Homo sapiens: one gene and its partner. The protein of the gene in region 1 purifies or fractionates together with the protein of each later gene. This does not show direct contact. Each region holds a gene or a part of one and is shown on either strand. Other genes may lie near its edges.

Region 1 (3,183 bases):
TACCACTCCATCGGGAATTAATTATACACATATTTAACTCTCAGTGATGAGTACCTATCCTATGCCAGGCCCTATGCTGGATGCTTTCATACACTTATTTAACTGAGGATTGACATAAGAATATCTTTTAAATTAAAATAGGTTATCAATTCAAGGCAAAAACTACAAACTCATTATAATCAATTTTGGGAGGACTTTGTCCTAAAAGGAATTTCAGGTAAGAACACTTTGAATCAGTGGGACCACTCAACTTAAAGACTGTCTACTCTTTTCCCAACATGCCTTCCTCCCCAGAACTCAATTTGGATTTGCTAGAGTATCTAACAATACTTCAACACTTGTTAAGCTGCTGGTTTTCCTCTGTTTTCTCTCCTTCTAAAAGACATTTCTCTGAGTTCTGCAGCAGGAACAGAATCTCAGCTAATTTACTGTCTTCACTGAACGTTACCACCACCCACCCCTTCCCTTCCAGGTGCGGCAAAGAGGAAACAGACACAAGGTGGTCTAGAGGTCCATTTCATTTCAATGAGTGTGACAGCCGCTCTTCTTGGGGCCTATGGGGGAAAGGCATTGGTCCGTGGTGGGAGTGAAGCTGCTCCCACAAGATGCATTCCCAACTGGATCAGGAAGACCTTCAGATTTAGGGGAGGTCTTTGTGGAAGTCTTTAGTGGAGTCTTCCCCTGCCCGCTAGATGTCCGGTCGGTTTTAGCCCGCGTTGGCTACTGGATGGTCCGCTGTGCGGGCTTCTTGGGCTCCTGCTTCTCTTCCCTGGGCTTGGAGCTTCGCCTCTTGTCCTTCCCTGACCTCGGCGTGGTGTCTTCCTTCACGGCCTGTCCTCGCCCCTCGTCTGCCGCTGTCGCTCCCGCTTCCTCCTTGGCTCTGGCACACGGCGGCTCCTTGGCTCTCGGCCTTGCCCTCCTGGTCCTCCTCGCCCTGGCATTGGCCTTGGCTTTCGCCCTCGCGTTCCGTCTCCACACTTCTCTGGCCTTCCTGGCCGCCTTGCGAAGGGGCTGGCGGCGCCTCCGGGAGCTCCGGGGCGCGGCTGGGGTCCTCCAGGGAGCGCGCGTGCCCTCCTCTTGCCTCGCGCGTCCCGGCTTTCTCCTGGGCTTGGGAACCTTCCAGACCCTGAAGTAGCCGGCGGCGTCGCTGCCGCTGACCCGGAGGAGCGTGGCCTTGGCCTGCCCCCTGGGCGCTTCGTGGCGGCCGCTCTTCCTGCGCACTTCGTAGCCGGCGTTTCGGAGCTCCTTCTTGAGAGCTGCCAGAGTCAGCCCTTTGTGAGTGGAGATGGCCTGGAGCACCAACTGGGACACTCTGAGCACGGAGCTTGAGCAGCCCCTCGATGGTCCCCCGACAGTTTTTTCCGCTGGCAGCTGAGTGGCTGAGTGTCCTCGGGATTCGCCACTGGGCCCAGGCGCCTCAGCCATGGCCCCACTCCCGCCTCTGCGGGGCCACCGGCTTTGGGCCTCACCAGTCAAGGCCTGTTCCATAGCTGAGGTAGACTGGGCCACGTCACAAAGGCAGGCCTGGCAGAGATTTTCAGGTCCTAATTATGGGGCTGGCATATCTCACCCGGGGAGGGGCCCTTTTCACTTATAATAACCAATCAAATGCCACTTCCTTCTAGGTCTAAACCAATCCAAGTCTTCAGCGCCTGTCCACCCCCAACAGTCACCTACCTATAGAGTCTCCAGGGTTTTGTTCCCAAATCAAACTTACTGATCTCGATCTCCACCGCTTTCTTTAGTCGGCTATTTTGTGTGTGTATGTGGTCCTGCAAACCATCTACCCACAGTTCCTTAAGGTGAGCGAAGCTGCTCCCAACTATCCAAAACAAGCAACACACTGCCTGTAGAAAGTACACGGGGTAGTCCATGAAACACAACCCAGATTAGAAACTCCCACCTTTAATTCCACCAGTCAGGTATCTGAAGTCATGTCTCCCTAATTCTACACAGTGGATTCTGTGCAAGAGCATGAAGTAAAAAAGGAACCAATTGTGTGATCCCTCTACCCTAAACACTGATTCCCACACCTGGGAAATTTAGATGACGCATTCAACTGTACTGAAACAATCTAGATTTCACATCGCCTGAGGATACTGGTCTAATCATTATTCTTTGAACATACTGTGTTTTTTTCCATCTCATCCCCTCTCTTGGATTTCTCATCCTCTTTGTCTGCCCAGATAAGTCCTGCTCATCTTTCAAGGTACTGCTACATTATCCTTCTTCACTGAAGACTCCCCAAACTCTTTCAAATGATTTCTTGCCTCTTAACTACCACAACCACCAAAATTACTTCTGCAATCTTATATGGCTTTTTCTTTATTTTAAATGAATTTGGCATTAGAGGGTATAATGTGACACAATATTTTTTAAAAAGAAAAAAACTCGTACTTGGAGCTGGAAGATATGGATGCATATCCTAGCTCTTTAGGAGCCATATGACATTAACAAATCCCTTAATATCAGTGGTGTGGCTGTCAGATGGATGTGCCGGCCATCTGACTTCTTATCTAACATCACATTCCCTTCCTACCAACATCACAGAATTATTGCAAAATTTCAGAAGAGGTAGATGAACAAGGGCTACCTAAATATAAGGAATAAATTTACTTTACTTTGAATGTTTCTGTCTTGTATTTCCAACTAAATAAAGATATCCTCAAGAGCTATAGTCTTTGAACTTCTATGTCCCATGCTGCACCTAACAATATGCTTCATTATACACAGCGGGCATTTAATTGAGCCTGCTTACATCATTCCTCTCTGGTGAGGAGAGTTTCTCTAGATTCAGAAAGAAACTTCCAGAAGATCAGGAGAAAGGAGCAGAGTGAATTTCAAAGGGTTGGAAATGAAGGGGGCCAAGTAAGGATTAGCTTATCAAGGACCTATTTTGGACACAGTTTAGTTGGGAATAATTTAAAGTATTATTCTAAGAATACTTCAAATTGCCAAGCATATCATACTTTTCCAGAGGGCAATCACATACATTCATCAGTCACAGGCTAGACAGTGACAGTTTCTTTTAAAAATCAAAGCTCCAGGAAGTAGCTTAGACCAGTGCTTTTTTTTTTTTTTTTTGAGACAGAGTCTTGCTCAGCCCAGGCTATGTAATGGCACAATCTTGGCTCACTGTAACCTCCACCTCCTGGGTTCAAGCAATTCCTGTGTCTCACCCTC
Region 2 (4,065 bases), on another chromosome or scaffold:
TGTATATATTATGTATTATGAAATATATATTACGTTATGTAATATAGATTATATATTATATATGAATATCTTATATCCATATATATTCCATACATACATTTTATATGTGTGTGTATATATATATATACGCACCATGGTCCATCCCCTCAATAATATATTTTCCAAAACCTCAAATTTCCTTCTCTCTGTCTTTTATAATACCTGCCCTGGATAATACTAACCATCTGTCTCTCCTGCCTATATAATTCTGCCCCTACTGGTTACATGGGAAGCCTTGGTTTCCTAAAGTGTTGAGATTACAGGTGTGAGCCACTGTACCCAGCCTGATTCTGGAATTTTGTATATGCAGACTCCTCCTGCTAAAATAATATATATTATATATAATATATATTCCATAATATATATAACATACATACATATATTATTTTAGCATATATTATATAATATACGGTAATAATACACATAATACATAATTATAATAAATATGATATAATATATATTCCATTGTATAAAACATATAATATATATAACGGAATATTATTCAACCTTGAAATAGAAGGAGGTCCTGACATTTATCACAAGATGGGTGGACCTGGAGGACATTACGCTAAGTGAAATAAGCCAGACACAAAAAGAAAAATATTGCATGACGTCACTTACATGAGGAACTTTTTTTAATCAAGAGAGACAGCTCAAATACACAGAAATAAAGAATGAGGCAGTTGGGGAAGAAAATGGGAAGATGTGGGTCAAAAAATACAAAATAGCAGATATGCAGGATGAACACCACACAGGTGATGGTGATTTTACGCCCTTCCCAAGGTGTCATTCAGAGGCACGTGGTCTCCATCTGACCCTCACTGGTGATATTGATTTGATCACCTGGTCCAGATGTTGTCCAATTTCTTCGCTGTACAATTTCTATTACTTTTTCTCCATTCCAACATACGAGCAGTTTATAGAGAGGCATTTAAGGCAATTCAAATATTCTGCTCGTCATGCAAATGTCCCCCAGTTGTGTCATGTAGATGACAATTCTTGCCTGATTCAACCTTTACCACTACGATGGCTACAAAATGCTGTGGGTTGTGGTTGAAAATTTGAGTCTTGAGTAGAAATTGGAGAAATATGCTGGACCGTCAGATTCCACCGGGGCACGGCCGCCATGCCAATCCAAACTTCAAAACTACAATTCCCAGCATCCTCTCCGCCCCGCTTCCGTATTAGACGCCGCCAATGAAGTCCCGCGAGAATTGGAAGGCGGCAGTGAAGCGGAAGCCATTACTCTCTGGAGTCGATTGCCCCGAGACACATGGGCCAAGGAGGGGTCAGCGGCGAATTCTTTCGGCCTGTTGGGGACCCCTCGTGTCCCCACGCCAGACTGGACCTCCCGTATGAACTTCTCTTCGCATCGGCGGCGGCTTCCGTCACCTCCGCTCCCCCGATCCTATTCCCAGTCGTGTAAGCCCTGCTTTCCTTAACCCTTCTCCCCCTCAGTTCCAGGGGTCACGGGAGGCCTATCTGGCGGTGAGGACTAAGAGGGTACGAGGGTCGGGGGCTAAAGAGCTAGGCATCCAGACGAGGGGTGCGTTTAGATCTCGCGATCAGCGATATGAAAAGCTGGGGACGCGAAGGATAAAATTGGACCATTGCAGCTAGTGATGAGAGAAGCATTGGTCACCTGATCCTGAAAAGCCCTAAGTCTCTGGTGGGGGCGGAAAAGCCCGGCTGAAGTGAATTCAAGAGTTTGGGGGCAGTTCAGGAGATTGGGGGGCGTCAGGATTTGGACATCGCGAGGAGAAATCACCTTCTTTCTGCGCTGTAGTCAATTTTATCTCGTGAATGTCAGCACATTGGTGTTCTTATTAGCACTTACCTTGAGTACCTTTTATATTTTTAATTTAAGACCTTCTGGTTGCACTTTTTTATTTATTTTAATTTTAGTGGACTCTTGTAAATAGCCTATATGTATATTTACTATTCAGTTCAACATTTTGTTAATTAACTTGAGTTAGTCCAGTTATACTTATCGTGATTATTAATATTTTCCATTGAATTTTACCGTCTTATTTTGTGGTGTGTCCTTTCCTATGCACATATTTTAACACTGGAAAATAGGACATACATGCAAAAAAAGTATGATTACACACACACGCAGACTTACACACACTTAAAAGGACAACAGTAAAGCGAATTTACAAACCAGGCCAAGAAAGAGATTATTAAATCTCAGAAAGCTGTGTGCCTCTTCTAAACTGCATCCTCCTCTCCCACCAATACTGTCTCCGTGGATTTGACTGCGTATACATCTTTTCCAGAAAATATATTTCCTAAATTTTGGTAATTATTTGTGAATGAACTCAGGCGCTTCAGTATTTTTGGAAACAATCTTTTTCTGTATTGATTCAAGCACACCTTTGTAATTTAGAGATTTCTAAATATCTTGTAGATGAAGTACTTACACCTAGCCATTCTTTTTCAGGAATGTCATGGCTTAAATTCTAGTCAGTTCACCAAATTCCACATACTGGACTTTTGTTTTCAAGTTGTGGTGAATCTATATTTGAACTTTGGGAATATTGTCGTTTTTATGCCATTGAGTTGCAGTTAATTGATTTACATCATTTATTTACATCTTCTTTAATGCCTTTCAATAAAGTGTTTTTTGTTGTTGTTGTTGTTTTTTCCTTTTTGAGATGGAGTCTCACCCTTGTAGCCCAGACTGGAGTGCAATGACAATCTCGGCTCACTGCAACCTCTGTCTCCCTGGTTCAAGCGGTTCTCCTGCCTCAGCCTCCCGAGTAGCTGGGAATACAGGCACCCACCACCACACCCAGCTAAATTTTGTATTTTTAGTGGAGATGGGGTTTCAACATGTTGGCCAGGCTGGTCTCGATCTCCTGACCTCAGGTGATCCACCGGCCTTGGCCTCCCAAAGTGCTGGGATTGCAGGAGAGAGCCACGATGTCCGGCTCAGTAAAGTTTTATAAGTACCTGCAAAAAGGATTTAGGTTGTTTTTGTTATATTTATTCTTGGGAACTTTGTTTTTTGGTGCTCAGAAAAGTCTAACTTTTGTGTAGTTTGTTGGATGTTCTTCGTAGACAAGGAAAATGTGTACAATTCAAAAGGAAAATACAAATATTTATTTTATACAGACGATAAATTGTCTTTTTTGTTTGTTTGTTTGTTTGTTTGTTTTTTGTGCTGGACTGGGTGGGGACTTCCCTTGTCATTGACTGGAGTTTGGATGGCACACTCTAGGCAAGCCTGTTTGTTTTCTGATCTTAAAGGGAATTGTCATTTGTGTCTGCCGAAGGCTTTTCTGTCGAATAGTTTTTATTAGGTCAAGGAAGCTCCCCTCTTTTCCTACTTGAGTTTTTCTTGTGAATTGCTGCAGGCTTTTAACAAGTGATTTTTTTTTTTTTTTTGCCATTATGTATCTGTTTATTGATACATTTTGTATCTGTTTGATACAAAATCTATATTGATAGTTTTGTATCTGTTTATTGATACATTTCTAGTACCTTAAATTATGGCACTCAGTACTGCTGTGTAACAAATTAATGAGTGAATAATATAATTTTTTTTCTATCCTGTAGTGTGGCAAATTAAACCAATTGATTTTCTCTTGTTACATTGAATTTGTATTGGTAAATAATTTGGAAAGGACATGTTACTATTTGTTACTTTTGGCTTCGGTTTGCTAATACTTTGTTTGGTGTTTTTGGATCTATGCTTGAGTGAAATGTTCCTTTTCTGTTTCAGATTTATGCCAGCCTCATAAAATGGGATGAGAAGTGTTCTGTTTTCTAAACTCTGGAATGTTTTGCATAAGAATAGAATATTTTGTTCCTTAGAACGGGAGTGGTACCTGGAAAAACCATTTGGGTCTGGAGTTTTCTTTGTGGAAAGTTTTAAAGCTATTGTTTCTGTTCTTTTAAGGTTTGTGGGGCATTCAGGTTTTCTGTGTTGTTATGATGAGTAAAATTTCTTTAGGAATTTATTTATTCCATCTGAGGTTTAAATCGTATAGTCAGGGTTGTTCATAACATACTCAAATTTTT

Evidence for each region. Proteins that work in one complex are often made in the same cells at the same time.
Region 2: the proteins of H1-7 (region 1) and ZNF317 purify together in Homo sapiens (affinity purification with mass spectrometry; one large-scale study listed by BioGRID and IntAct). This does not show direct contact.

The regions. Positions count from the first base shown.
Region 1 is NC_000012.12:48,327,597-48,330,779, reverse strand, and holds H1-7 (testis-specific H1 histone), read right to left. Parts: upstream 1,801-3,183; 5' UTR 1,489-1,800; coding exon 721-1,488; 3' UTR 501-720; downstream 1-500. UniProt on the Homo sapiens protein: Essential for normal spermatogenesis and male fertility. Required for proper cell restructuring and DNA condensation during the elongation phase of spermiogenesis.
Region 2 is NC_000019.10:9,139,132-9,143,196, forward strand, and holds the start of ZNF317 (zinc finger protein 317), read left to right. Parts: upstream 1-1,265; 5' UTR 1,266-1,461; intron 1,462-4,065. UniProt on the Homo sapiens protein: May function as a transcription factor. May play an important role in erythroid maturation and lymphoid proliferation.